Linked DNA regions of Homo sapiens: region 2 is linked to region 1. The links come from fine-mapping of genetic effects on gene expression. A gene starts in region 1. The other region holds a variant in brackets. All regions are shown on one strand. Distances are between the middles of the regions.

Region 1 (2,500 bases):
AATGATAATTTAACTGCGGTAGCAGCACAAGCTTATTTATTTCTTGTTCGCAGTAGTGTAGAATTAAAACAAACAAAGCAAAACAAGCTCTACCGAGTCTTTAGGCCTGGTTCAGGGAAGCCTGCCTGTGTATTGAAGAGGTGTGAGAGCCATCAACACCTCTCCCTCCTTGTGGTAAGATACTGGTTTTCATGAGGTTTACAGACAACATGCATTTGCAAATGAAATATTAAATTGTCTCCAAATTTTGGCAACACTCTGTGCACGCTGAGATTTTGTGGACCCAGGGGTCTATCTCTCCAATTTCTGACTAAAATAACGGATCGGGAACTGGACGATCAATACGAGGGAGGTCACATCTTCAGTATGTACTATGACTTCACTTCAAAGAAAAAAACTGCCTTTTCCAGCAAGTGATGTCACTTGCAGAAAATGAGAAGCGGTGATTTTCTTTCAAGGGCAGTTTGGGGACAAAATGTAAGGCTAAAAACCAATTCCTCCACGAGTGATCACAAAGAACAGAAACTGATGGGTCAAGTCCCTCGTCTAAGGAAAAAGATTTTCGAGAAGAAAATGAGTGTAGAAAAGTGACCAGAAAGCGATCAGCAGGGACTCTTCCTCCAGCTGCAGGAAGCAAACTCTCGATCGGGGTGAGTGGTAAACCAGGGCCGGCAGACGCCTCTCTCCCCCACGGACCGGCTTCCCGCAGGTTTGTGGCGACTGCCCCATGTGCTATCAACGGGCACTCTGAGGGAGAAGCGCCCAAATCAGCCACGGAGCATCTCCACAAGGGCCGCAGCGGGGGCTTAGGGGATCCCAGCCATAGCGCAGCAGGGGAGGGGAGAGCACGTGAAACCCAAGCCGGAATCAGCGGAGGAGGATGCAGGACCCAGGCTGGGCCTAGCCCTACCTGCCCAGCTCCCGCAGGGCGGGGATCATGGAAGCCAGCTCCAGGCCATGTTCCCCCATGCTGAGGCTGCGAGGCACTAGTCAACCACGCCAACGCGGGTTCCCGGCGTCTCCAAAGCTACCGCTGCCGGAAGAGCGCGGCGCCCGACGGAGCCGTGTGGAGGCCAAAACTCCTCCCGGAAGCCGCTACTGGCCCCGCTTGCCAGGCCCAGCGTCTTTTCTGCATAGGACCCGGGGGAAGCCGGGAAGCCGTTAGGGGGCGGGGCAAGCGGGCGGGCGTGCGTCGGTCAAGTTTCCCGGGTCGCGTCAGGCTTCTTTCTCAGCACCGAGCGAGCGACGTTCGTGAAGCTTTCGTTTTGAGCGGCCAGACTCTGCTGTTCTCAAGCCTGGGAGGCACAGAGAAGCAAGACTTCCGCATCGGGGGAGGATAGGGCTTGAGGGCCGCCAGCCCAGACTCGCTTCACAAATGTGAGAACTATGACAGTCCAGCGAGTAAAGGCCAAGAGTAAACTCCAGGTTTCCCCAGAGTAACGCTCTCACATTTTAAAAGTTCCTCACGTTCCCACCGCTCTTGTCCCTCTTTCTGAGAGATACAGGCCAAAAGGTGGGCTCTCCCTGTTTTTTTCCTTTTAAGCATTTTTTTTCAACTTGAAGTCACTGTTAGGTTTCGTTGAGGACCCTACCAACTTTTAATATTTGAAAATGGGGTTGGAATATATTTGTGTCTCATCAAATCAGCAACAGTACTGTGTGTGGAAATGCCACCATTACGGGCATCCGCAACCTGTGATTTAATTTTTAAAGTAAATCAATGGATTTTGGCAATACACATTTTCTAGCTCAACTCAATTTATTGGAAAGATGACCACCATAAGAGATTGTTGACATGTCAAAGTTATGTAGTTAATCACTCAAAGTCATGCAGTATGTTTACATTTGTTCTTTGGTACATGAGGATAGTTAACCGATACAGTATCTTAAAGAAAAAAGTGATGGAATGACAGCCAAATATGCTCTTGCCTCAAGAACTTTGCATTTGCTGTACTCTCTGCCTTGAACACCACTCTGTCATTGCCCTTTTTCCTTCAGGTGTTTGCCAAATTAACACCAAAGAGCCTCATATAGACTAACATATATACACATTCTGTCTCACCCTCTTTTTTTTGTTAGATACATTGTCTTACTCTGTTGTTCAGGTTCTAGTGCAATGAATGTTGCAATCATAGCTCACTGCAGCCTCAATCTCCCAGGCTCAAGCGATCCTCTCACCTCAGCCTGGGCTCAATTGATCCTCCTGCCTCAGCCTCCTGAGTAGCTGGGACTACAGACATGCCACCACGCCTGGCTAATTATTTTTTGTAGAGACAAGGTCTTGCTATGTTGCCCAGGCTGGTCTCAAACTCTTGGCCTCACACGCTCCTCCCACCTCAGCCTTCCAAAGTACTAGAATTAGAGGTGAGAGCCACCACACCCGGACATACTATATTATTGTCTCTCTCCAGTTAGAGTGTAAGCTCTTGGAGAGCAAGGTCTTGTCTATTTTGTTCACTCTCAGATACCCAGGACCTAAAACTGTGCCTGGCACATAGGT
Region 2 (3,035 bases), 200 kb before region 1:
CTGGTCTCGAACTCCTGGCCTCAAGTGATTGCCTATCTTGGCCTCCCAAAGTGCTGGGATTACAGGAGTGAGCCACCATACCCAGCCAACATTGACATTTTGAAGAATATATAATTTGTCCCTCCCTCTCCAACCTGCCTTTTAAAAACAAAACAAAACAAAAAAACAGTTCCTTATTTTGGGTTTGTTTGATGCTTCCACATAATTAGGTTATGGTAGTACATTCACAGCCAGAATACTGCATAGGTGATGTGTCCTCCAAAGGGTATTACATCTGGAGGTACACAATGTTCATCTGTCCTTTAATGCGATGCTAACTTTGATTATACCATTAATATGTTGCTCAATTTTTTTCCTGCATAATTACAGTTTTCGTTTCCCTTGCAGCTAATAAATAATCTGTAGGAGATACATTCTAAGACCATGCAAATATCCTGCTCCTGATTTAAAAAAAAAATGCCCCCTAGATTTAGTTCCCAAAGATGATTCTTACATGATTCAATCTTTATCATAATGGTTGCACAATGGTTTTTCAACTGCAGCACTCTCTCCAAATTTACTTCTTACATGCTACTACAGACAAGAGACCTTCCTTTCCCTATTTATCTTTTTACTGTCACTACGGAATCATGAATTCCTGTTTTCCCCCCAGTGGTTTATAATTAACTACTGAATTTAATTATTTTGTCACTCAAAGTATCCAAGATTTGGGCAGTGGTAGTACCCTCAACCTGGTTCCTGTGTTTACATGACATACTCCCACCATTCTTCTGAGCACCTCCTTACTTTCTGACATAACAAGATGTTCCAGGTTCATCTTGTATCTTCCCTGCCCCAGATCCAGAATCAGCAATTTCTCTGAGAAGCCCTGTTCCTTTTAGTGAGTTATGAAATTAGACGTCAAGATCTGGGTGGTACATGTGCTCATTGTGCTAAGGTGTCTTTGCTTCTTATTCCTTTCAGCAAATAGAGCTAGAAACATATGCATACGTGTATATATATATACACATATATATGTGCCTATATACACAGATATACAAACATATATACATATTTTAGAAACCAAGAGTTCACACTAATACTTCCAAATCTGTCCCTATAGGTTCTTTCTTGCTTTCTCTCCTTCCATATTTGCATGTACCTTTTTCCATTTAAGAACCAAAGTTCCTCAAATATGAACGCATTTACAAATTCACTCAAGCCTATTACATGTCTAAAATAGTTACAAAATCGTTTCATCCATACCACTACAATAAACAAAACTGC[TA/T]AAAAAAAAGAGATCAGGATTTGAACACACCACCTCTTGATCCTAATCTGCTCAAGACTAAAAGTATATGGTCTTTAGTCTTAGATATATAGTATTTAGATATATAAGTCAAACACTGTGTTCATAAGTTACATGGATAAATTCTTTATTTTTTCCCTTCATTATTATATTTTAATTTAAACCTAAATGAAGAGAAGTTAAGTAACTGCTTTAAACTAGAGAAAAATGTATCAGTAACAATAATGGAAACTAACTTCTCCAGTGCAGCCATAATAGGGAGTTCCCAGCATAAAGACCATACTTCTCAGAGGAAACAAATCATCCAATGTTTTGATATTGGAGAAACGGGAGTCGAAAGCTCGGATGTCCTACATAAAATAAAAGTAAATAATCTTAGTCATAATTTCTATAGATTGCGTATCAAGTTTTTTTCCTATGGGATTATGACTATGCTGTTTGCAAATGTCAATGTGAAGATTTTTCTACATAATGCCAAGAGCTAAAATTTGTTGACTGGTTATATGGCAGGCACCCTTCTATGTGCTTCACACATTTATTGAGTTCATTTAATCCTCATGACAAACCTCTGTGGCAGAGACCATTATTAGCCTCACTTTACAGATGACAAAACTGGGGCACAGAAAGGGGATGAATCTTGTCCAAGGTCATGCAGCTAAGAAGCCAACTCAGGCAGCCAGTGTTCTTAAGTCACTTAATCACTACACTGTACTATAACACCCCAAATTACAGGATCGCTACATACTTAAAAAAATTTTTGTCCTCTTATCGTATCTAAGATTATAAATGCAAAAATAAAATGCCTTTTACATTTATAAGATTTAAGGCAAACATTTTTGAAGAATAAAAATATAAAATTCAAGGGTGTAAGTTAATGGTGGGATTTTTTCTTTTAGAGTCTAAGTCCTTAAAAAAAACCATAAAAGGCTGGGCGCAGTGGCTCACGCCTGTAATCTCAGCACTTTGGGAGGCCGAGGTGGGTGGATCACGAGGTCAGGAGATTGAGACCATCCTGGCTAACATGGTGAAACCCCATCTCCACTAAAAAATACCAAAAAATTAGCCAGGTGTGCTGGCGGGCACCTGTAGTCCCAGCTACTCGGGAAGCTGTGGCAGGAGAATGGCGTGAACCCAGAAGGCGGAGCCTGCAGTGAGCCGAGATGGCGCCACTGCACTCCAGCCCGGGCAACAGAGCGAGACTCTGTCTCAAAAAAAAAAAAAGAAAAAAAAAAAAGCATACGAAAGCATAAAAGACAAGTTTCCTAACTATATATACTGAGTGTCTGAGCATGTAATACTTCTTACAAATAATAAGTTATTTTGTAAATTATATTAAATGATAATCTCTATTATACATTGCTGAATTAGTCTATTTATATTAACATATCTTTTCATTATACAGTGAATAGTGTATTAATAGTGTATATTAAGACAGAATTGAAACTTGATATAGACTTACCTTGACAATAGTTTGATAAACAAAAGGAACAACTTGTTTTGACCACTGTTTCTCTAGACGAACTTCACCATTTTGATTTATTTGATATTTACGACCTGTGAGTAACTGAGCATACACAACTGCAGATGTTTCATTTATTATTATTCCTTTTCTTCTCAGGTAGCTAAAATAAAGAATAAACATGAAATATACATATGAATGAGTATGCAGATATTCTAGGACGATAATCGTCAACTATCGTAAACTATCAACTCATAATCAAGTGTGTAAATAAACTTTAAATAAATACGC

The links. PIP is the estimated chance that this variant, and not a neighbour inherited with it, causes the effect.
Region 2: its variant is the best candidate, but not a certain one, in a credible set for the expression of ATR in whole blood (TOPMed, PIP 0.77).

Annotation. Positions count from the first base shown.
Region 1 is chr3:142,577,736-142,580,235 of GRCh38, forward strand. ATR (ATR checkpoint kinase) reads right to left here and starts at 998. Exons shown (of 47, transcript NM_001184.4): 1 at 911-998. The coding sequence starts at 969. RefSeq lists enhancers at 789-948, 1,249-1,348.
Region 2 is chr3:142,381,779-142,384,813 of GRCh38, forward strand. XRN1 (5'-3' exoribonuclease 1) reads right to left here. Exons shown (of 41, transcript NM_001282857.2): 21 at 2,745-2,907; 22 at 1,522-1,635. Among named protein-coding and RNA genes, the nearest start is that of XRN1, 65 kb to the right of the region's middle. The variant TA/T (reference allele first, on the strand shown) is at 1,267.